Linked DNA regions of Homo sapiens. The protein of the gene in region 6 purifies or fractionates together with the protein of the main gene of each other region. This does not show direct contact. Each region holds a gene or a part of one and is shown on either strand. Other genes may lie near its edges.

Region 1 (3,500 bases), on a different chromosome or scaffold from region 6:
TTTTTTTATTTTTATTTTTGTAGAGACAGAGTCACACTATGTTGCCCAGATTGATCTTGAACTCCTGGGCTCAAGTGATCCTCTAGCCTCAGACTCCCCAAAGTGCTGGGATTACAGGCACAAGCCACCACACCTAGCCTATAAAACAATCTTTAATATGCACTTTTTAACAGCTGCATATTTTCCTCTGGATATTAATTTATTCAACTAACCCTGTTATTTCTGCATATTTGGGTTGCTTCTCCTTTTTTTATTATAAACATCCTTTCATATAAAGCTTTAAGTACCTATGAAAACATCCATAGGATAAATTTGTAGAATTAATGAGTCAATGAATAAAAACAATTTTAAGACTTCTGCAGCACACTTCTATTGGCATTTATTTCGAAACTGCCTTAAAATCACTCTCTAATTGTTATCCAACGGATTCCCTGAAGTCTAAGTAGTTTATCAAGACTCTCTCATTAGTCTGCCTCTTGTTTTTCCAGGTCATAAAGTCTATTACCAAAATTAAGAATCCATGTTTCTGGCCCGGCACGGTGGCTCACGCCTGTAATCCCAGAACTTTGGAAGGCCAAGGCGGGCGGATCACAAGGTCAGGAGATCGAGACCATCCTGACTAACATGGTGAAACCCTGTCTCTACAAAAAATACAAAAAATTGGTCGGGCGTAGTGGCATGCACCTGTTGTCCCAGCTACTCGGGAGGCTGAGGCAGGAGAATTGCTTGAACCCGGGAGGCAGAGGTTGCAGTGAGCCAAGATCTCGCCACCGCTCTCCGCCCTGGACAACAAAGCAAGACTCCGTCTCAAAAAAAAAAAAAAAAATCTATGTTTCTGAGGGTTCTCTTTTGAAGTAATCATCTTTTATATGAAGAAATGGCTAGCAACAACTTAATTTGCAAACTGAGCATTTTGATCTTAAAGCAATTATTAGTTTTTATACAAATAAAATATACTTGACTCAGTTATTTTAAGTTACATGGATCCCAGAAAGACAACATGAAAAGTAGAAACATTTGTATTACGTCAAACGCTCTGTAAGACAATATCACAGAACTTTAAACTTTTAATATGAATTTGTGACCAACAACCATGTAATTGTTCAAACAACTTCAAATACCTTATTTTACTTACCAGTTGTATAGCTATCATGAGAACTGTTTTAAGAGAAAATGTTCTGTCACACAAGTCAAACAAGTCTTCCAAACTAGGTCCCAGCAGTTCCAGCACCATAGCATTGTATTTACCACAAGGGCCGAAATAGTAAACTTGAGGTATACCATCTGGGGGAAAAGAAATACTCATTTAATAATTTCATCATCTTAAATACTAAGGTTTTCCTCTTAAAAACTGATATTTAAAATTTTATAGTTTCAAGAACTAAAGCAGTACTATCACTTTTTCCAGATACATACTTTTCCTGACCAAACCTCCCAACCTCCCAATACCTTCTCTTTGATGTTCACATTGTAGCCTGGATACACCTCTATTGCAGCTGCATGACTGAATTACATTATAAACAGTACTTCATTGTTTCTCTCTACCACCTTATTACTGGACAAAAGCTGGGCTTTTTAGCTTTATATTTCCATGGCCTGGAGAAAGGCTTAGCACATAGGAGAGATTCCAGTTCTACTGAAAAGAGAGTCACTACTGGCTTTAATAACCATGTGATAGGCATACTGCTAAGATCACCACTGTCAAGATTCCCATCCTCTGGCTTATACACCTTGTATAAACCCCTCCCTTTGAACGTGAGCATGATTCCTGGGATCTCACTATTGTGACCAGGCTAACTTATACGGCAAATGTAATTAAGGCTCCTATCAGTTGACTGTAAGTTGATCAGAAGGAAGAGAATCCTGGTGGACCTGACCTATTCAGGTGAGACTTTAAAAAGATAGTCTAGAAGTCAGAGATATTGGAAACAGCAGAGAAACTCTCCTGCTGGCCTTAAAGTAGCAAACCACCATGCAGTGGAGGGAGCCACATGCCAGATAGGAATCCTTGAGGAAGTAAGGGCCACACAGTTCTATTGCCATGAGGAATTGAATTCTGACAAGAATCAGTGAACTTGGAAGAGAGCACTGAGGCTCATGTAAGATTGCAGTCCAGGCTTACACCTTAATTTCCACATGGTAAGACTCTAAACAGAAGACCCAGCAAAGCCATGCCCGTATTCCTGACCCATAGAAATTGTGAGATAATAAAGTCTTTCATCTTAAGCCAGTAAGAGATAGTAATAATTCATTATGAAGCTATATAGAATAATACAAACTCCAAATATGAAGTCTGAATAATACAAACTCCAAATATGAAGTCATCTGTATTTTATTTTCAGAACTAACAGACTCCCAATAAACTGAAATGTAAGTGATCAATTTACTTTATATGGAAGTTGTCAGAATCAAAACAGAGTCACTTGTATTAAAACCCTGACAAACAGAGCTAGGGAAGGAGATGAAGGGAGGGTTCTCACACATATATATATATATGCCTGATAAGAAGAACTACCACAAAAGACTGCAAAAACCACAACCTGGAACAAAAGCCACCACAACTTTACAAAAAATTACTCTGTGAGGACATCTGCCCAGGAACTGCCTGTCCAACTTCAGACTGAGGCCATTCTTGTTAATGATCCTTGTAGCCAAGGGTAACTCTCTCAAAACAACTTATGTGACCCTCCTCATTTTTCCTTTAAAAACTCTTGTCTTCCTTTACCTCCCTGAATATACTCACATATATTCCCATTGTAATGCCCACTCGTAAATAACTATCATTTTCTTTTAGACAAGTCTCCCTATTATTTAGTTTGACACTTAACACTGCATTTATCTATTAGCATGAAAAAATGAACTTCTTCCACCACAAATGTCTCAGTTTTACTTCCAAGTGATTTTTTTTCAGTATATTGAAAGAGAAAACAAATCTAATGAAAACTTCTCATTCTTTTTAATAAAACGTTTTTTAAATATAACATTATTATTATTTACCCTATTATTTTGAATATAAATCATTGCAGGACAGAATAGAAAACACTGAACTAAAAACCAAGAAAACTACATTCTTAGTCTAACCTAATATTCATCAGCTGTGTGGCTAGCTTGTCATTCAACCTCTCAAGTGGGCCTCAGTTTACTTATCTATTATAATATTAGTGATTTGGATGAGACAAGTATTTCTCAGATATGAATATGAGTGAGGCAGCAGAACATCTGCAGGTGGGAATGTAAGCTAGTGTAATCACTGTAGTCCCAGCTACTCGGGAGGCTGAGGTAGGAGAATCACTTGAACCCAGGAGGCGGAGATTGCAGTGAGCCGGGACTGCGCCACTGCACTCCAGCCTGGGCGACAGAGCAAGACTCCTTCTCAAAAAAACAAAACAAAACAAAACAAACAAACAAAAAAAGATAGTGTAATCATAGCAGGAATGGATACAAATTCAAACTGCATACATGGTGCCCTCCCCAGAAACAGAGATTCTGATACACCCCAA
Region 2 (3,500 bases), on a different chromosome or scaffold from region 6:
TTTTGATCCGAATGGGAGAAGGAAAAACAGTGTCACTCCAATAAAATGAATAGCCTGTTAGGATAACTGCACTTTGAATTTTGTTCTTACTTCAAAAGTTTAAAAGAATACCTGGAAAGACCTCTGAGTAACTTCCACATCACTCAGTGCTGGAGAAAGGGGACCAAAGACTAGTGCAGTAAGGGAGAAATGGGCTCTCAGAGGGACTCTGCATCAGGCCACAAAGCAACTAGGCAACTGCTGACTATTGTTCTCCAAACTTCTAAAGTCCCGAAGAACAAAAAAGCAAGTGCCCAGTACTCAGCTTTTCAAAACCATTAAAATACAAACTTCAATGACTAAACTAATCCCTGATTGGCTGGAATGTACAATAAGGCTGGGCTTTCGGCCAATCAGAGTTCTGTTTGTTGGGAGTGGACTGGACTCTAAGCAACTGCCACTCACTTGGCCCTATATTTTCTCAAAATTCTTGTTTCTCTGGCACTAGTTAACATGTGGATCTGAACTAAAGCACTAAGAGAGAACCTTTCTCTGTACTCTACCTTTGCTCCAGTTATGATTATCTACTTTGCCATCTGTTAGTATCAGGGTTCAATTAATTTGCCGGTATTGAGAATTCTGTATTCCTAGGTTTATCCCTTCCTTAACTTATTTCTCCTCCCATCTCCCATTTCTTCACATCTGACTACACTTAGTGCACAGCAAAAGGAAAATAGTGTTTCTCACTGATTTGGGTTCCAGGTCAAAGATAAATTCCCACTCAGTTTGGAGGCTTACTGAAATGTCTAGGTGCTTGCTCTGAAACTTCAAGAGGAAGATTAGAAGGACACATTCCTAAGAATTTAAAACCAGGTAAGGAAGAAAGCTGGGGAGGCATGCCCACAAGCTCTTCAGTTAAGTGAGGCCACAAACTCAAAAACACCATGCAAAGCTGCAGCAAACGAACAGCAACTACAGGAAACCCGGGACATGAATTGAGAGTTCAGTTGTTCCCATTAACAATCTGAATAGAGAAATAAAAGGCAAAATCCTAATCGCAAAGAGTGTACAATACCTAGGTAGTAAGGGCCTAATAAGAATTGCTCTTATTTGTGCCCATCAGGAAAACATACAGAGAAGTTAAGTTTATCAGCTCAAGGAATCAGGTAAGGATGTCCTGACTCTTAAGTCTATGGATCCCTTGATTCTTTTAGATCTTGTTGTCCAGTCACACTAGGTATATGCTGAGACACGTAAGTGTTTTCTCTTTGAAAAACAATTTGAGGTTGGGTGTAGTGGCCCACGCCTGTAATCCCAGCACTTTGGGAGGACAAGGCGGGCGGATCATGAGGTTAAGAGATCGAGACCATCCTGGCCAACATGGTAAAACTCCGTCTCTATTAAAAATACAAAAATTAGCTGGGTGTGGTGGCACACGCCTATAGTCCCAGCTACTCGGGAGGCTGAGGCAGGAGAATCATTTGAACCCAGGAGGCGGAGTTTGCAGTGAGCTGAGATCACACCACTGCACTCCAGCCTGGTGACAGAGCGAGACTCCGTCAAAAAGAAAAGAAAACAATTTGAAATCCCTCAAGTTTACCATAAGAAAGACTCCCTATAGAGATCAAGCTGTTTCCCAGCCCAGGAGATATAACAAGAGATCCTTAATTCAAGACAGGTATTCCCATATTAGGTAAAGCAGTCAGCAACTTCCCAGGAAAATATAAAGCCTTAAGTTAGTTGAAATGTGAAACATCTGAAGTTTAACCCTCTGGCTCATAAATAGCTTTGCCTGTTTTGGTGAGCAAAGAGAAATAATCTTCATGCATAGAATCCTGATCTGTTTTGGAGTGCCAACTAATATATCTTTTATTTTAGCCCCAACCCTTTTTTTTGAGACAGGGTTTCACTCTGTCACCCAGGATGCAGTGCAGTGGTGTGATCGCAGCTCACTGCAGCCTCGACCTCCCCCAGCTCAGGTGATACTTACACCTCAGCGTCCCAAGTAGCAGGGCCTACAGGTATGCACCATCACACCCTGCTAATTTTTGTATTTTTTTTTTACAGAGATGGGGGGCGGGTTTCACCACGTTGCCCAGGTTGGTCTCGAACTCCTGGCCTCAAGCAATCCACTGGCCTCAGCCTCCCAAGGTGCTGGAATTACAGGCGTGAGCCACCGCACCCAGCCTTAAATGTTTTTATAGAGACTAAGTCTCACTATGTTGCCCAGGCTGGTCTCAAACTACTGGGCTTAAGCGATCCTCTCATTTTGGCCTCACAAAGTGCTAAGATTACAGGCATGAGCCACTAAGCCTAGCCTTATTTTAGTTTCTTGGCTGCTGTAAGGGAAACAGAACTTTGTCAGAGTGACATGCAAAAAAATTGAAATCCATCTCTTTTCTCTACAGAAACACTAAAGCTAAGGAAATAAAACATGTAGCCATTTAAAATGCTGCAATCGTGAAGTCCGTCTTAAAAGCTCCTCTCATTTTGCCCCCCTATGGGACTGTGACAACTTAGCAGCAGCAGGACATGTCTTAAGCCAAGACGTAAGGAAGGAAGGACTCCTTACAAAGCTGGACCTCACAAAAACGACCCGAGAGACTCATTAACTCTTGATCCCTAAATGAACTGGTAGGAGGACCATAACAACAGAGGCAGGAACTTGGCCAAAGAACTCTAACCAAGCCAGACAGTAAAAGGGCATTTGTAAGGGATGCCCCTATCACTGCCCTCTGCTATGGCCACACAAGAGGAATCCAGGACACATGAAAAACATAAAACCACCTCCCTCCAAAGCTTCTAAATCTCCATCCCATTTTCAGCACTGGAAAAATCATACATAAACAAGGCTTTTTCATACTAACAGAGCCTAATGTTTATTCTTTTTTTTGAGACAGAGTTTCACTCTTGTCGCCCAGGTTGGAGTGCAATGGCACGATCTCGGCTCACCGCAACCTCCGCCTACCGGATTCAAGTGATTCTCCTGCCTCAGCCTCCAAGTCGGTGGGGCTACAGGCATGCACCGCCATGCCTGGCTAATTTTTTTTTTCTATTTTTAGTAGAGATGGGGTTTCTCCATGTTGGTCAGGCTGGTCTCAAACTCCCGACCTCAGGTGATCAGCCTGCTTTAGCCTCCCAAAGTGCTGGGATTATAGGCATAAGCCACCGCGCCCGGCCAATGTTTATTCTTCTAAGGATGTCTGATATGGCAAAAAGTTAAACTGATTTTTTTGTTTATTTCACTTATTTTCCTTTTTTTTTTTTGAAATGGAGTCTCACCATGTCGCCCAGGCTGGAGTGCAATGGTGTGACCTTGGCTCACTGCAACCTCCGCCTCCCGGGTTCAAGCGACTCTCCTGCCTCAGACTCCCGAGTAGCTGGGATTACAGGTGCCCACCACTACGCCCAGCTATTTTTTCTATTTTTAGTAGAGATGGGGTTTCACCATGTTGGCCAGGCTGGTCTCAAACTCCTGACCTCGTGATCCGCCCACCTCAGCCTCCCAAAATGATGGGATT
Region 3 (3,500 bases), on a different chromosome or scaffold from region 6:
ACCTCCGCCTCCCAGGTTCAAGCAATTCTCCTGCCTCAGCCTCCGGAGTAGCTGGGATTACAGGCGCACGTCACCACGCTCGGCTAATACTTGTATTTTCAGTAGAGACAAGGTTTTGCCATGTTGGCCAGGCTGGTCTCGAACTCCTGCCCTCAGGTGATCTGCCTGCCTCGGCCTCCCAAAGTGCTGGGATTGCAGGCATGAGCCACCACATCCAGCCTGTGCTCTCAATTTTAGACTTTTTAAAACAGACCCTTCATCCCAAATCTTTTCTCTTGATGGACAGCTAAAAAATAAGCTATTTGATTTTTCAAGATTTTGAAGTCCATTCGTTTTAGGAAGTCCCAAGTGATCAACACCAATAACTAATAAATGAACACTTCCATTTTTCAGCCAAACTTGACACATTTGTTACTTTATTACTTGCCACATTTATTTATTTTTTATTATTGGACCTGCTGGCCAATGTTGAATTTAACCAGAGCAAAATTCTACCTGTACCTCACCTGAAAGGGTTTTTCTTTTTCTTTTTTTTTTTTCTTTTTTTTGAGACAAGGTCTCACTCTGTTGGCCAGGCTGGAGTGCAGTGGCGCAATCTGGGCTTACTAGCAGCCTTGACCTGTGATTCTCTCACCTCAGCCTCCCAAATAGCTGGAACTACAGGCATGTGCCACCATGCCTGGCTAATTTTTTGTATTTTTAGTAGAGATGGGGTTTTGCCATGTTGCCCAGGCTGGTCTCGAACTCCTGGCCTCAAGTGATCCTCCTGCCTCAGCCTCCCAAAGGGCTGGGATTACAGCCACCGTGCCTAACCTGTTCTTTTTCTTTATCCCATATTTTAGGCACAGATTACTTGCAGTCTACTAAAGTGAGTCACTCTGAACCAAGCACAGAATTCAAAGGAAGCTGGCTCTAACTTGGAGCCCCAGCTCTGTCTCTCCTGCGCTGTGAGACCTGAAAGCAACTCACTTCCACAGCTTTCTTTGTAAAATGGGGTTAATATTATTAGCCCACCTCTCAGAGCTGTTGCAAAGGCTCAGTGGGACAGTATGAGGGAAAGCATTTTGGATAATGCTTAGAAAATGGATTTGGTTATTAGGTTATTACAAGGATTATTACAGAAACTCACTATGAGTGACATGATATAATAATATACATCTAAATATGCTAGCTTTTGCTCTGAAGCCTCTTGCTCTGCCAAAGCCAGCTGCCTGATCTTCCCACACCTGAACATACACCATTTTCAGCGGCAGGAAGGGATATAGCTGAAGTTACACCTGCAGCCTGAACTGAGGAGCAGATGGCCATGTCTACCAAAACCTTTGAAATTCATTCAATTACTTCTAAAAATCTTTTTTTGTTGTTGTTAAGAAAAAAAGAAAGGTGAGATATTAAATTCTTAGTTATAGTTTTCTCATTTTTTTCCCACCTTGCACAGGGCTCTCTTCTCTTCTCTTTTTTTTTTTTTTTTTTGAGACAGAGTCTTGCTTGTTGTCCAGGCTGTAGTGCAGTGGCACAATCTCAGCTCACTGCAACCTCCACCTCCTGGGTTCAAGCAATTCTCCCACCTCAGCCTCCCCAGTAGCTGGGATTACAGGCGTGCGCCACCATGCGTGACTAATTTTTGTATTTTTAGTAGAGATGGAGTTTTACCATGTTGGCCAGCCTGGCCTCAAACTCCCGACCTCAGGTGATCCACCTGCCTCGGCCTTCCAAAGTGCTGGGATTGCAGGCATGAGCCACTGTGCCCAGCCTTTTTTTTTTTTTTTTTTTTGAGGCAGGGTCTTGCTCTGTTGCCCAGGCTGGAGTGCAGTGGCGTGATCATGGCTCACTGCAGCCTTGAATTCCTGGGCTCAAGCGATCCTCTCACATTGGCCTCCCAGAGTGCTGGGATTACAGATATGAGCCGTCATGCCTGGCCAAAGCTGTCTTTCCAGGGTGATTTCAGGGACAAGCCCGCTCAATACTTTAAAAAGACATGTCTGTTTACCTGGAGTTGTTATCAACTCTGTTTGCCTATTATATAGCCTTGAGGTTTGAGAGTCTGAGAAGTCACACCTGGGACCTCAATCAGCCTCCTCATTTTAGAGATGGGAGACTGAGGCCCAGAGACTGCCCAGCAACACACAGTGGGATATTTGACTTCTCAGGGTTACCATCTTTCTCCCATGCTGTGGGGAGCTGGGTGTTCCTTCTGGGAAGCGATGAAAGTTGGAAAGTACTTGTAAATATTAGCCTTTGATTCTTGCTAAGATGTGAGGAGTGCCCTCCCCTACAACGGATCATATTTTAAGCTGTTACCAGTCATTTAAAGTCAGGCATCTGGGTGGGGTAGCAGACAAGGCTCAGGCAGAGACAAGAGGACACAAGGACTTGAGAATTTTGCTCTGGACTGACCCCATTGCCTCAGCCAGAAGGCCACCTCATGGAAACTTTACTGGAAGAAACTTCCCCAAACTGACTTTGGGGAACTTTCGGAGGCAGGGTTCCTCGCAGGCTGGGCTGTCACAGTCGACTTGCTCTCAAAGGCTTACTCCAGGGAGCCTGGTGCCCCTGCCAGCGCTCCCAGGTGGCTGGGTTTCTGGGCTGCAGAGGGGTGGGATCCCTGCCAGACCCTTGCCCAGACCACTCCCATTGCTGCTTCGTGCAGCCCAGGTTGCTGGGTTCTGCCTTCCCTTCCGACCTGACTCTGAAAACCTGGCTTCACCTGGCTCCCCACCCTTTCTGCTCCCGGCTTGTCTCGTGGGCCCCAGGCAGCAGGCCCCATCCTCACCTGCAGAACTTGTTCTTGCTGTAAGCCTAGGTGAGCCAAGCACTCACTTCTGTAACCAAATATGTGTCCCGGATTAGGGCTTTGTTCCCTTGGCTGTGGAAACCCTGGGAACTCCTGGCTGGATAGCGCTGCTCTTTTTCCCTTACTCTAGCTCTCTCGCTCTTTCTGTTTCTCTGGCTCTCTCATTTCTTTGTCTCATTCTCCACCTCTCTCTTTTGAGGGCACCCCCTCCTTCTCATTCTCTTTCTGCCTCCCACGACAATAAGTAGGAAATTAAGCCCACCAGCGAGCTGAGCATCTGCAGTGATTCTGCATCTTCCAGGCATCAGCGCTGCCTCTTAGCGGATGGCCATTTCACAGTCCCCTCTCCTGAGATGGACTGGGCTGCCTGCCACCAATCCTCCTACCCTCCAAGCTGCTTAGGCCAGTCTCCCATGCTTGACGGGACCTCATTTCCAAAAGAAACGTAAGAAACCAGTCACATCTCCCCATGCTGTGACCTCATCTCACGGATCCCCTCCACAGTCCCATGAAGGAGGCTGGGCAGGTGCGACAGGGATGCAAAGAAGAGACTCAGCCGAGGCCAGCGGCCATTGGAAGCAGATCGGTGCCCTGACTCACGGCCCAGCCCTTTCCATTGCACCCAGGAATTGGCCACCCTGCCCTGGAGAGGCCTCCTGATCCTGGCCTAGTACCTCTAGGTGACTTCTCCTGCCCCAGGGTGAGG
Region 4 (3,500 bases), about 19 Mb from region 6:
GCCGTTTACTGTGTTGGCTAGGCTGGTCTGGAACTCCTGACCTCATGATCCACCTGCCTTAGCCTCTCAAAGTGCTGGGATTACAGGCATGAGCCACCACACCTGACCTGATATGTGCAAAATTCTCGTGAAAGATCTTTGTCCCCAAATTGTGCCAGCTTGCTGTCTAACGTTGCTGCCAATTAACCCTGCCTCTATGTAACTGGATATCATCCCTTTCAATCACATGTCTCAAAAGAGCTTTAACAAAGGCAAAGCTGATACCCAATTGAGAAGAAACCTTTCTGTGTATGCCTCTTCCTAAAACGCTGGGTCAGTGGAAAGGGGTCCAGATCTGCTCCAGACATATGGGGAAAAAATTCATCTCACAAGCAAAGGGTTGAAACTACACAAGCAAAGGTGCAATCAGTGTTGTAATATCTGACTGTGTTGTAATATTCTTATGAGTTGAGTACAGAGGAGCAGCAGAAAAACCTGCTGACTGGTTTCTAAGTCTCCTGGCGCCCTAAAATCTGCACTGCATTGCTTATTTTAAAATAAACACCACTAATTTTGGCAAGTACCTAAAATGGCAGGTAAGCCATTAACAGTGGTCTTGGTACATACATAGTAAAGTCTGAAGAGAATGGTTTAGCCTCCAAAGAGAGTTTGGGGAATGAGTAAAGGCGGAGGAAAGTGCATGGAGGTGTCCACTCCCCATCAAACTTCCCTTCAAGAGGGCGTTTATATGAATGAGCGAAAGAGGGCTATTAGTGTGTTCTCATTCCCTGGCTTACTTGGGGAGAACATTGCATCTTACTTTCCATTTTTCTCTCAGCTCTGGTCTGATGGAAAATGTTGAGGCTAGGAATGGAGTAGAACATTCCAAAGTTTAATAACGCTTTTGGTGTCATGGAAGAGAACAGGCCTAAGAATCAGAAATCTTGAGTTCTGGCAGCCCCTGGTCATTGTGTTGAAATGCTCCCCAAAGAGCATTTTTTTTTAAATTTTTTGTAGAGACAAGGTCTCACTATGTTGCCCAGGCTGGTCTCAAACTCCTGGCCTCAAGCAATCCTTCTCCCTCACCCTCCCAAAGTGCGGGGATTACAGGTATGAGCTGCTGCGCCTGGCAGGGGAGTATTTCTAAATGCTCTTTTAGTGGCAGGGAGCCCCCATTCGTAAACCACCATGACAAAGAAATGTAAGGTATCCTAATCACTGCCATGAAATGCTAAGATCAAAAAACAAATCCAAAGTGAATCCTGTCAGTGGCTTCACAAAATAGAGGAAAGGAAGGAAAGGTTGGAGGAGGCACAGAGGAGGCACCTTTCCAGGTGTCTGCCCAGTCCGCACCCTTGCACTGATACCTGTACCTCAACCTATTCACAAAGAGGGCTCAGAGAGGGCCCTGGCAGTCATGCTTGTATCCTATGGCCAGGGGCAGATTCTTAGGCCCCACCAGATGCTCCCCACTAGAAATTGGGAATCTGCATTGAGGAACTTAATTTGGTGGTCAGGCAAACCTGAGAGCTGAGAGGGTGCCAGATTTAACTACGTGCACAGGAGCGGGACAGCCATACACAGAAAAAGTGTGAAGAAGATATGCAAAAGGCAGAAATGTGTGGCTGAAGGATACACAGACCGTCAGGCAGAGACAGGGAGAACGGCTGTCTTGGCTCCTGGTGGCATTCTGGTTCTTGGTTCTAGGCCCTAGTAAAAGCTGCCACGCCTTCAGCTCTCTGGTTCTGGGAGGGACTCCTGTCTCCTTCGACTAAATCCTCCCTTTTTTCTGAAGTTGGTTTGAGTAGGTTTGTGTTATCTGCAATCAAAAGAGCCTTGACTATAACAAAGGAGGGGTAAAAAAGGGACTTGGAAAGGAGGACAGGGTGCTGAATGGACACACTGCAGAAGGACTGGACACACACACCCCACAACAGTCTAGGGAGATACCTGGGCGGATGCAGACGACATGGCAGCCCCTGGGGTCAGTGTGGGGCAGCACGGTGAGGAACCCGGAAGCAAGGACATCTTTTAAGGCTGATGGCTTCAAGTTATTGAAGACTTCGGGCCAGCTTCTTCTACAGCTGTGGTAGTTGACGAGGAGCTGCAGGGCCCGGTCGTAATCAAACTTGCGGGCTCGGAGGAAGCGCAGCAGGAAGGCATCGTCGAGGGATGTGCTCAGGTTGGGGTACTCCTTCCGCACCATGTCACGAAGGGCCTGCACATCTCGAAGTCTCCATTCCGGCTTTTCCTGCAGCTCTTCCCGGGCTTTGGTGACCAGGTCTTCTGTCAGTGAGCACACATAGCCCGGAGGCTCAGGTGGTGGTGGCAGCTCATTTTCAGAGAGTGAGGCCACAGAAGGGCTGGTTCTCAGAGAGTCACTTTCTTCGGACATTAGCTACCAAGGTCCCTGCCAACAGAGAAGCCCTAAGCAAAGTTAACAAGTGCTTATTTCAAATCCTAGGGCAGTACAGTGTAGGGGACAGGAACACTTCTGTAAAAACCGAGTAACCTCAGGGCAGTGTTTCTCAACTGGGGGCAATGAACTGGATCTAAACCATACACGCAAGTCTGACCCCAGGCCGGCTGCTGTTAGTCCCCAGGGAGGCAGGCAGCAGCTACAGCAGACTATACACTCCCTAATAAACACCAGGGCCTTCCTTATAAATGTATTAATAGGTGCTCGACCTTATTCATCATTAAATAAATGTGAATTAAAACAACTGTAATGTATATGCTGTAATCCCAGCACTTTGGGAGGTTGGGGCAGGCGGATCACCTGACCAGCCTGGCTAACATGGTGAAACCCCATCTCTACTAAAAATACAAAAATTAGGTAGGTGTGGTGAGTGCCTGTAATCTCAGCTACTTGGGAGACTAAGGCAGGATAATTGCTTGAACCCGGGACGTGGAGGTTGCAGTGAGCCGAGATGGCGCTGCTGCACTCCAGCCACAGCAAGACTCTCAAAAAAAAAAAAAAAAAAAAAAAAAAAAACAACTCAGATTCAGATTGGCAAAAATAAACGTACTCTAATATGCTTGCTGCTGCTGGGAGTATAAATTGACAGCCTCTTTGGAGGGCATTTGTCAATATCTTCAGAATGTAAACCTACATGCCCTTTGGGTCAGCAATTCCATTTCTAGGACATATACTTGTATATATATGCATAATATGCACATGGCCTTCACAAGTATTGATTATAATGATAAAAGATTGGAAACATCTTAACTGCCTATCAGGGGAGACTGGTTAAGTAATATTACCATATTAATGGGGTACTAGTCAGTCATGAAAAAGAATTAGGGGGCCGGGCGCGGTGGCTCACGCCTGTAATCCCAGCATTTTGGGAGGCCGAGGCAGGCGACTCATGAGGTCAGGCGATCGAGACCATCCTCGCTAACGCGGTGAAACCCCATCTCTACTAAAAATACAAAAAATTAGCCGGGCGTGGTGGCAGGTGCCTGTAGTCCCAGCTACTAGGGAGGCTGAGGCAGGAGAATGGCGTGAACCCGGGAGGCAG
Region 5 (3,500 bases), on a different chromosome or scaffold from region 6:
TTCAGCATCATTAAAATCATCAGGCCCAGAGACACAAGGCTCTCGTGAAACCAACACTTATCCAAGCTTGACCATGCAGATGCTGCACCGAGGTGCACTTTATGCTTCAGGCAGAAATCTCCCCATGTTTCGTGAGGACACTGACGCTCAAGCTGTGGAGGCCCCTGCCTCAGAGCACACCTGGGTCCTGAGGCCACCTGGCGTGGCCCCTGGTTCTTCCAAGGTGGGTCCTGAATAGGGCTGGTAATGGGAGCTGGATCTGGAGGAATGTGAGTTTGGTTTGTGACAAAGCAGATGGTGAAGGTGCTCTTCCTCCCACATGTAAAGGGTTAGCTTGAAAGGGTACGCTGAATCCATTCTACAACCTAGGCAGGTGCCTCCTCAAAAGGGACAAAGATTGCTGCTCATTATTTCATGACCAGCACCTCCCCTGGTGAGATGGGGGAGAGGAGTGCTGGGAACAGGAAGCCATGCACATTATTTACTGCATTTTCCTACAGCTGTGTTTGGCAGGAAACACCAAGATCTTTGAGACCCTGACCTTAGAACAGTACTGTCACCTCCCTCAGTACGTGACCATCGTGGTCAGACTGATGATATGGAGCTCTGACTCTGGTCTTGTTTTATTCAGGAGGTCATCTGTGTGCCACAGGGGTGGGACAGCCATGAGAGGACACCAGGAAGAGGCCGCTAACTACCAAAAAGCAACATGCTTTCCACGGTGCTGGGGCTGGGACTGTGGCCACCAAAAAATAACACCCTGCAAATAACAACATCCACGTCTCAACCCTCAGAACCTGAGACTGGGACCTCATTTGTAAAACCAGTCTTTGCAGAGACTCAAAGTAAAGATGTTGAGATGAGATCCTCCTGGATGATCTGCCTAGGTCCTAAAGCCAATGACCACGGTCATGACAGAGAAGCAGAGGGAACTGGACACAGAGTCAGGGGAGCTGGCCATGTGACCCGGAAGCCAGGGGAGTGACAGCCACAGAAGGAACACGTGGAACCACCAGCAGCTGGAGGCGGTGAGGAATGGAATCCCCAAGACCCTTGTAGGACATGGAGCCCTGCCAACACCTTGATTTCAGATTTCCAACCTCTAGAACTGTGAGGAAATTAATTTTAAGCCGCCAGGTTTTTGGTCATTTGTCACAGAACCACAGGAAACTCCTATGTGTCTCATGCATTAGTAAGCAGCTGAATTCCAAGTACCCCAGAATAGGCAGATTTGAAAAGGAAAATGCAATCTACAACTGCAAAACCAACTATGTCTGCCTGTACTTCAACATCTGTTCCACGAACTAAAATGTTGCCTTCTCGCTGTGATCCCACCTTGAGGACTTTGCCGGTTTGAAAGTGGATTGATAATTGTTGAGAAATTCAAAACAAAAACAGGGTATCTGATGAAAAACAACTCATTAACATGTGCTGTATCTTAAGATCAGGATAAACAGATTTGGGGAAGGTGGGGTTTATATTAGTATCGACAGTCATTTTTTTTTTTTTTTTTAGACGTAGTCTCGTTCTGTCACCAGGCTGGAGTGCAGTGGCGCGATCTTGGCTCACTGCAACCTCCACCTCCTGGGTTCAAGCGATTCTCCTGCCTCAGCCTCCCAAATAGCTGGGACTACAGGTGCCTGCCACCACACCCAGCTAATTTTTGTATTTTTAGTAGAGACGGGGTTTCACCATGTTGGCCATGATGGTCTCAATCTGTTGACCTCATGATCTGCCCGCTTCGACCTCCTGAAGTGCTGGGATTACAGGCGGGAGCCACTGCACCCGGCCAACAGTCATCTTAATAGGAGCTCCGAGCTGGATTCCTGTCCTGATAGGATCACAGCCCCTCAGGACACAGAACGGGCCTACAACCCCACATACCTGGAGGCCATGAAAGGGGTCATGTCCAGCTCCAGGGGGAAGGACACATACGTGGTGATCTTCCGCCGCAGCTTGGCTGAGTGTTCAAATCGCTGCAGAAATAGGAAGGGGACAGAGGGAAGAGGAAAGAAGATCAGAAATGTCACTGGAAGCTTCAGGGCCTTCTTCTGATGACAGGTGTCTGTGTTATCTCTTTTGTATTTTATTGAACTGCCTTGTAGCTACATCTAGAATTACAGATTCAAAAACACAGTGGCAATCCACCCAAGTCCTCATTTACAGGGTTCAAGTCTTCAAATGATGGGACTGTTCAGTGGTAACACCAAGGGTACAAAAAGTAATCTTACAGCAAACCCAGCAAAGCACAGAAAACAAAACAAAGATCCGTGGCCCATGGCAGCAAAAATGAACAAATTGTTCCTTTCACCAGACAGAAGACAGTCCTTTGCCTAGATCAGGAGTCACCCATTCCAGCCAGCAAGCTAGGAATGGGCGTTTTCCATGTTTAAAGGGTGGTGAAATGAAACAAAGAACATGTAACAGAGAATCGTATGATCGCACGCAGCCTGTGGAGCTCGACATCTTCAGTTATCTGGGCCTTTAGAGAAAGAGCTTGCCAACTCCTGGACCAGATCTGCATGCTGAGGGCCTTTGTCTTAAAATAAAACAGAAAACCTGAGGAGGGGGTAGCTGGAGGAATGGTAGAAGTAATAAAAACTTCACAACCACTCTGCTCCCAAGAAAACTCACATTCTACTTTCACTGCGAAGCCACTGATTTTGTTTACCGCAGCACAGACAAAAGGACAATTCACAGATGGGAGGACAATTCCCTCACACCCTCCCTTCCTCGGTGTTCTTCCTGCTTGCTGCAATTATAAAAAATGTAACTGCACAGCAAACCAAAAGGCTGAGGACCGTACTGTGGACTAAAAACTAAGTCTGCCATTAGAGTTGGCTTTCTGGAAAACTTACTTTGAGATGAAAACAGGCTACGATGGGCAGTTTCTTCATAGTGAGCTGCTTTGTGGACTCCTGGTAGCTATGGCAACCGCTGCACTTGATCTTGGCGCTGCTGCCCAAGTGCTCTGGTCTGGTGAATCTACAGGCGTTCAAAAAAGACAGGAGCGGTAAGGGAGATGCAAGAGACAGAAAAATGAGAGGAAAGAGGTATTTTATCTCTTTCATTGGGTTGATTTCCCTACCAAAAACATACACTTACAACTAAAAATGAAACAATGAAAAAAAGAGAAAATGTTGTCCACCTTTGCTGCCTGTCTCTACAGAATATTTATCTTAAATATTTTTTTTCCAGGAAAGGCCTGGGGAAATGGTAATAATTTTCTAAGTACCATATGACCCAGCAGTTGAATTTGAGCCAGAGAAATGAAAACTAATGTTCACACACAAACTGTCCACAAATGTGCACCAGAATGTTACTCACGAGAGTCACAAAACTGGAAACACCCCGTTTCTTCCCATGGCTGAATAATTAAAGAAACTGTGGAACACTGTACCATGGAGTATGAGACAGCAGCAAAAAAGGAAGGAACTACTGATCCCAAGCTGTACCCTGGATGCGTCCCCAGAGAATTAGGATGTGCAAGAAAAGCCAAT
Region 6 (3,500 bases):
AAAGACAGGAAAAAAAAAAAAAAGCCAGGCACGGTGGCTCACCCTATAATCCTGACACTTTGGGAGGCCGAGGCAGGCGGATCACCTGATGTCAGGAGTTCGAGACCAGCCTGGCCAACATGGTGAAACCCCCGTCTAGACTAAAAATACAAAAATTAGCCGGGCGTGGTGGCGGGCACCTGTAATCCCAGCTACTCTGGAGGCTGAGGCAGGAGAATCGCTTGAACCCGAGAGGCAGAGGTTGCAGTGAGCCGAGATCGCGCCGTTGCACTCCAGCCTGGGGTACAACAGCGAGACTTTGTCTCAAGAAAAACAAAAACAAACAAAAAAACCCCCACAGTTTATTAATCTGCCTTATTGTCCTTTGCCTTTTAAAAATATAAGATAAGCCTGTTTAAGGCTTTACTGGGAGGCAGCTGTCAGTCAGCCAGCTGTTCTGGAGTCAGTCCAGGGCAAAGGCTGCTGTAGGAACAGCATTAGCACAACTTTGCCTATTTATCCTTAACCAGAGCAGGTTTACAAGGATGCCTATACCATGAACACCTGCACGCATCTCAGTCCGCCCACCTGGAGGTCAGACACACTAAGAGGCAGCTGGACCAGCTCCCTGTTCAAGGCCACTTCAGATTCTATGTGAGTTACAGTGCCCTTGTCTTAAAGTATTTTCATAAATGTGAATTAAGCAGTGCTCACACCAGGGAGAAGGATGCTGTGAGTCTGTCTGTTGGTCTGCTGGTGACAATCAGTTAGGGTTACCCAACCTGGCGGGATGATGCAAGAGAAAACAGCACCAACAGAAACCACATCGTAAGAGGTAATTTTGGGGAAAAAAGGGTAATTTTGTAAATCCTGTGTTGTCACTTTAACATGTATGATGACATTATTTGTGCTTATTCTTCAATATTATACCTTTATACTCGAGAATCTAAAAAACTGTTTAAGACCCACCCTGCATGGCTGTCCTGGGGATTACGGCTAATGCATATTCGGCAACCTTGTCCCAGAACACCTGTTCAACAAACCACGGTTTGCCTCATTTCAGAGTGTTTTGCTATTTGGACACGGGGTATTCTTTTTCATCCCCCACTGCAACCTCCGCTTCCCAGGCTCCAGGGATCCTCCCACCTCAGCCTGACCTCAGCCTCTCGAGTAGCTGGGACCACAGGCATGCACCACCACGCCCAGCTAACTTTTGTATTTTCTGCAGAGATGGGGTTTCCTCATGTTACCCAGGCTGGTCTCAAATTCCTGAACTCGAGAGATCTATCCACCTCAGCCTCCCAAAGTGTTGGGGTTACAGGTGTCAGCCACTGCACCTGCCCAAATTTTTGTATTTTTAGTAGAGACGTGGTTTCGCCATGTTGGCCAGGCTAGTCTCAAACTCCTGGCCTCATGTAATCTGCTTGCCTTGGCCTCCCAAAGCACTGGGATTACAGGCTTAAACCACTAAGCCTGGCCAAAAATGTTTTTAATTTTTTAAAAATTTCTATACGAAGAGCCTTATTAAAAGTTTGAGATGGGCCGAGCGCAGTGGCTCACACCTGTAATCCCAGCACTTTGGGAGGCCAAGGTGCGCAGACCATGAGGTCAAGAGATCGAGATCATCCTGGCCAACATGGTGAAACCCCGTCTCTACTAAAAAATACAAAAATCAGCCGGGCGTAGTGGCGCATGCCTGTAGTCCCAGCTGCTACAGAGGCTGAGGCAGGAGAATCGCTTGAACCCAGGAGGCGGAGGTTGCAGTGTGCCAAGATCGCACCACTGCTCTCCAGTCTGGTGACAGAGACTCCATCTCAAAAAAGAGAGTTTGAGGTGAGTCAGTGAGGTGGTGCGTGCCTACAATCTCAGTTACTGAGGGTTAGGGTGATTCTAATCTACTGAGACTGTAGGCATGCACCACCTTGGGAGGCTGAGGCAGGAGGATCGAGCCCAGGAAGGCCAACCTGGGCAACATGTGGAGGCCCCATCTCTACAAAAATTAAAACATTAGTCAACTGTGGTGACACATACCTAAAGTCCCAGCTACTTGGGAGGCTGAGATAGGAGGATTGCTTGGGCCTGGGAGAATGCAGTGAGCTAAGACTGTGTCACTCCTCTCTAACTTGGGTGAGAGACAGAGTGACACCCTGTTGTAAAAAAAACAGGATGTGGCAGGGCGCGGTGGCTCACGCCTCTAATCCCAGCACTTTGGGAGGCCGAGGTGGGCAGATCACGAGGTCAGGAGATCGAGACCATCCTGGCTAACACGATGAAATCCCGTCTCTACTAAAAATACAAAAAACATTAGCTGGGCGTGGCGGCGGGTGCCTGTAGTCCCAGCTACTCGGGAGGCTGAGGCAGGAGAATGGCATGAACCCAGGTGGCAGAGCTTGCAGTGAGCCGAGACTGAGTCACTGCACTCCAGCCTGGGCGACAGAGCAAGACTCTGTCTCAAAAAAAAAAAAAAAAAACAAGATGAGGCCAGGTGCGTTGGCTCACGCCTGTAATCCCAGCACTTTGGGAGGCCGAGGTGAGTGGATCACCTGAGGTTGGGAGGTCGAGACCAGCCTGACCAACATGGAGAAACCCCATCTCTACTAAAAATACAAAATTAGCTGGGTGTGGTGGCACACGCCTGTAATCCCAGCTACTCAGGAGGCTGAGGCTGGAGAATCACTTGAACCCAGAAGGCAGAGGTTGCGGTGAGCCAAGATCACACCGTTGCACTCCACCAGCCTGGGAAACAAGAGTGAAACTCCGTCTCAAAAAAAAAAAAAAAAAAAAAAAAGATGAGGCCAGGAGCAGTGGCTCACGCCTGTAATCCCAGCACTTTCGGAGGCCGAGCTGGGCGGATCACAAGGTCAGGAGATCGAGACCATCCTGGCTAACACGGTGAAACCCCATCTCTACTAAAAATACGAAAAATTAGCCGGGCGTGGTGGCGGGCGCCTGTAGTCCCAGCTACTCGGGAGGCTGAGGCAGGGGAATGGCGTGAACCCGGGAGGCGGAGCTTGCAGTGAGCCGAGATCGCGTCACTGCACTCCAGCCTGGGCGACAGCACAAGACTCTGTCCCCCACCCAAAAAAAAAAAGCATTATTATTTTAAAGAACACATCAAGAAAGAACTAACAAAATTTATTGCGACTGGCAAAAATGTAAAATCTCAGATTTTAACAGCTAGTCCTATCGCAGCAGCTAAAAGAACACCAAAGTGCTGTGGTAAAAGGCCCCGCAAGCAAAGGGGAAAGACAGACACCATCTGAGGGCTACGAACTTGGCAAGAGATGACAGAAGCTACAGTCTGTACTCCTGGACCCAGAATTTCCTTCGTTATTTGTCTTAGGGAAACCTTCTTACAATAAAACACAATCCTATTTAATAAAGAAAAATCCGATGGGACTGCTCAGCAAAGATCCAAACATTCGCTCTGCTGCTAATCCCTCCCAATAACAGGAGGAGCAAAATAAAAGCCAGGCAGGGCCGCACACTCCACACACTCCCTCTGCTGAGCTGCAGTCACT
Region 7 (3,500 bases), on a different chromosome or scaffold from region 6:
AGGAAGCTGTCCTATATTTCTAATTTATTAATTTTCTAAAATTAATAAATTTTAGTATTTCTAAAACTTAATCGACCACATTTGTAGAATACTTATAAACAGTTCATGGAACACAGTTTGAGAAACATTGCCCAATACTTGATGATGTCCCTCAACAAAACAGACTGACACACTTGAACATAAGTCATGACTCAGTCATCATAATAAACATCAATTATCAAACAGTACCTAACCATACCAGAGGATCTACCTCCTCTCTCATGGTGATTTGTGCTATAATCAGTGGCAGCCTGCCTCCATCTAAGAGCCTTTCTTTTCTTCCAATATGTTGTTTCTCATCTGTTGTATTCTGAGAAATCAGGTAACCAAGATTATTAGAACAGTGTGCAAGTAAATCAATAAACTCTGAATCATGGGCCAAGGGCCACTTCTAGAGAATTCCCTGCACAAATTTTAGTGCAAGAGTTTTATGACAATTATTTGTGTGGCTAAGGCAACCATCTGCTTTCTTTCCAGGACTTGGATATATGTCAGAGCCGAAGCTGCCAAAATTATAGCCTCTGGCTAAATAAAGGCACACAATATCTTATCCACAAAACTGAAATCCAAAACACACCTGAAAACCCACAGTACTTACAGAACCTATTATGTAGCAAAACCTGAGCAATCTTAATGTGAGGCTATTGACAGTCATCATTACTTATGCCATTTGGTGTGAATATACACGTTTCACTGCAGAATACCTATGTGTTTTATTATGGGCTGCTTCTCAAACCTTGTTAGGGATGCTACAAGATAATAAACAATACAGATGTAGTAACACCTTTCTAAAATCTGAAAAATTCTGAAATCAAAACATACCCCAGTTGTGTCAGATAAGGTAGTCTAGGCCTGTATGCCTGTGCTACAGTCTACATACACTCAATAAAATAATGTAAGAATGCCAGACTCTTTAGGGATTGGTCTTTCTCTATTTGCCTATAACTGTGCAAGGTACATCATAGGGGTTCAGTAAATGGTTTAATAAATGCTACCCTTAGAAGCCAGCTGCTAAACCTCCCATCAGGTTTCATGTTTCTCCTGAAAGACTACAAAATCAAAAAGAAAAGAACCAGTACAGGACACATGAATATACAAGATCTTTAAATTCCTTGTCTACTTGTACCTAAGGCTACAGACATAAGAGAAACAATCAGAAAAACTATAACAAGTGTCAAAGTAGGCAACTGTATTATAGAATTGCACACAAAAAGTGTTCTAATTTCAAAAGGCTGCAAGTCCATATCTTCTGTGGGAAGAAAGTTAACACGGTTCATTACTAGAAAGATTACAGATTGTTTCATCATTCCTATAAACCAAGCTATCTAAGAGTTTTGAAACAGCAATAAAGGCTATATAACCCTCTCAGAATGGAACACTGGAATCCTGACCAGAATTCCTAACAGTAAAAGAATGTTATGTTTATGCTAGTTGAACTTTATCTTTTCCCCGAGAAAAAAGAGTTAAGGGACATTATTTCAAGCAGTCAGGAATTTGGGAGTTAAGTGTGTGTCAGACTGGAAAACGCTTGGTAGAACTCAAACTTACCTATGAGAAGCAGCCTTCTTTGGTGCAAATTCATATTCTTCTGGATACCAGCGTCTATACACAGCAGAAATGGAACTCTCAAAGGAAGCTGTCTCAAATATACTGAACAATTACCTCCTTCAAGTAATCCATTAACATTGAAAATGGCATTTGAGTCATGATTCTCAAGTTGCTTCTTTGCCGGGGCCTCTATCTTCTACCCTCTCCTCTCTTTCTTCTATATATTTTCTATGAGCAAGCTCATCAGTGTGTAAGATTGCTAAATCTGGAAATCCAGCCCAGCCCTCCCTAGAGTTTCTGTCATGGATATGCAACTGCCCACTAGATATCTCCATCTAAAAATCTACCAGACACTTCTAATTCAACATACATCAAAACACACCCACCATTGTCAACACCTCCCCTGCCCCATCCACCATATCTACTCTTCTTCTTCTCCTTTTTATTTGAACACTGCCATCATCCACCAAAGCTGCTCAAACTACAAACATCAGAATAACATTATACCTCTTCCTTTTCACACCACCTCATTCGAACACTGAGTGTCTGTCAACTGACCCTCTCACATTTTTATCATACAAGCCCCTCATTTCCATGCCCTGCCCTTTCTCCAGTTCATTCTTCTCCCCAAGATGGCAGAAAAGCCTCCTTTCAGGCCGGGCGCGGTGGCTCACGCCTGTAATCCCAGCACTTTGGGAGGCCGAGGCAGGCGGATCACGAGGTCAGGAGATCGAGACCACGGTGAAACCCCGTCTCTACTAAAAATACAAAAAATTAGCCGGGCGCAGTGGCGGGCGCCTGTAGTCCCAGCTACTCGGGAGGCTGAGGCAGGAGAATGGCGTGAATCCGGAAGGCGGAGCTTGCAGTGAGCGGAGATCGCGCCACAGCACTCCCGCCTGGGCGACAGAACGAGACTCCGTCTCAAAAAAAAAAAAAAAAAAAAAAAGCCTCCTTTCTATCTTTCTACCACTTTTCTTGCCACCTTCGAATCAGAACGATCGTTATCACTCACTCTTCTACCTACACTTTCTCAAAGGAACCCCATTCCTTGCAAGATCATAGTGAACTTCACTGGCATGGTGTGCAAGCTCTTGAGGCCCTAGAACCACCTCCCACCTTCTCCAACCTCATGCTTTGCACTCCAGCATTAATGAATGCTTTGGGATTCATTTAACACATTTTGCCTTAGCTTCCTGCTCCCTCACATTCTTATACTTCTGTCTGCTCTCTCTGAATGCTCTCTCCTCAATAAAATGCCTGCAAGACTTCCACTCTTCTTCACATCTCAATTTCAAAGCTATTTCCTTGCTATGTAAAGGTTTCTCTGACTCCCCATTCCTCTTGCTCCAGCACAGTTAGATGCTGCTTCCCTTGTGACCTCACTAGTCCATACGCACATTTTCACTATAGGAGTCATCATAGAGTATATTTTCAGGGTGCGTTTTTTTACACATATGTCGATCCACTATTTTCTAAAGTACTTAAGAGCTTTTCATCTATATGTTCCCAGTCACAAGACTTCCACATAATATTAGTTAATCCAGAAAATGTATTGAGCACTTATTTTGTGCCAGGCATTGGCTTATTTACTGGGAACATGTCTGACGTTGTTGCTCCCAATTCTCACCAGTCCAGGGTAAGTTAAGGTCCTATACAAGCAAGAATGGGATGAGGAAGATATGAACCCACTTGGTAGCCTTAGTTCTACAGCTCTATCCAATTACTTTCCACAAATTCTCAATTAAAACATGCTAAATGAGGTAATTTAATGGATCCTAAATATAGCCCTTACCTGCACAGTTCTTTAACAGTGCTCACATCAATTATTCTATAATGAAGATGTTTCATGAACTGGGGCATGTATTTGTCAAGAAACTTCTTATCTTCATGAACTGAATTTCCTAGAAAGACAC

What was found.
Region 1: the proteins of DNAJC5 (region 6) and CSNK1G3 purify together in Homo sapiens (affinity purification with mass spectrometry; one large-scale study listed by BioGRID and IntAct). This does not show direct contact.
Region 2: the proteins of DNAJC5 (region 6) and DNAJC7 purify together in Homo sapiens (affinity purification with mass spectrometry, with the first as the bait; one large-scale study listed by BioGRID). This does not show direct contact.
Region 3: the proteins of DNAJC5 (region 6) and ECE1 fractionate together in Homo sapiens (co-fractionation; one large-scale study listed by BioGRID). This does not show direct contact.
Region 4: the proteins of DNAJC5 (region 6) and TTPAL purify together in Homo sapiens (affinity purification with mass spectrometry; one large-scale study listed by BioGRID and IntAct). This does not show direct contact.
Region 5: the proteins of DNAJC5 (region 6) and USP22 purify together in Homo sapiens (affinity purification with mass spectrometry; one large-scale study listed by BioGRID and IntAct). This does not show direct contact.
Region 7: the proteins of DNAJC5 (region 6) and REXO2 fractionate together in Homo sapiens (co-fractionation; one large-scale study listed by BioGRID). This does not show direct contact.

What each region holds. Positions count from the first base shown.
Region 1 is NC_000005.10:123,571,177-123,574,676, reverse strand, and holds part of CSNK1G3 (casein kinase I isoform gamma-3), read right to left. Parts: intron 1,285-3,500; coding exon 1,136-1,284; intron 1-1,135. UniProt on the Homo sapiens protein: Serine/threonine-protein kinase. Casein kinases are operationally defined by their preferential utilization of acidic proteins such as caseins as substrates. It can phosphorylate a large number of proteins. Participates in Wnt signaling.
Region 2 is NC_000017.11:42,010,940-42,014,439, forward strand, and holds part of DNAJC7 (dnaJ homolog subfamily C member 7), read right to left. Parts: intron 1-3,500. UniProt on the Homo sapiens protein: Acts as a co-chaperone regulating the molecular chaperones HSP70 and HSP90 in folding of steroid receptors, such as the glucocorticoid receptor and the progesterone receptor.
Region 3 is NC_000001.11:21,283,964-21,287,463, reverse strand, and holds part of ECE1 (endothelin-converting enzyme 1), read left to right. Parts: intron 1-3,500. UniProt on the Homo sapiens protein: Converts big endothelin-1 to endothelin-1.
Region 4 is NC_000020.11:44,478,874-44,482,373, reverse strand, and holds part of TTPAL (alpha-tocopherol transfer protein-like), read right to left. Parts: intron 2,945-3,500; exon of another isoform or gene 2,390-2,944; 5' UTR 2,375-2,389; coding exon 1,930-2,374; intron 1,799-1,929; coding exon of another isoform or gene 1,683-1,798; exon of another isoform or gene 851-1,682; intron 1-850. UniProt on the Homo sapiens protein: May act as a protein that binds a hydrophobic ligand.
Region 5 is NC_000017.11:21,005,012-21,008,511, forward strand, and holds part of USP22 (ubiquitin carboxyl-terminal hydrolase 22), read right to left. Parts: intron 2,986-3,500; coding exon 2,859-2,985; intron 1,977-2,858; coding exon 1,885-1,976; intron 1-1,884. UniProt on the Homo sapiens protein: Deubiquitinase that plays a role in several cellular processes including transcriptional regulation, cell cycle progression or innate immunity.
Region 6 is NC_000020.11:63,901,626-63,905,125, reverse strand, and holds part of DNAJC5 (dnaJ homolog subfamily C member 5), read right to left. Parts: intron 1-3,500. UniProt on the Homo sapiens protein: Acts as a general chaperone in regulated exocytosis. Acts as a co-chaperone for the SNARE protein SNAP-25. Involved in the calcium-mediated control of a late stage of exocytosis. May have an important role in presynaptic function.
Region 7 is NC_000011.10:114,445,967-114,449,466, reverse strand, and holds part of REXO2 (oligoribonuclease, mitochondrial precursor), read right to left. Parts: intron 3,489-3,500; coding exon 3,380-3,488; intron 1,642-3,379; coding exon 1,588-1,641; intron 1-1,587. UniProt on the Homo sapiens protein: 3'-to-5'exoribonuclease that preferentially degrades DNA and RNA oligonucleotides composed of only two nucleotides. Binds and degrades longer oligonucleotides with a lower affinity.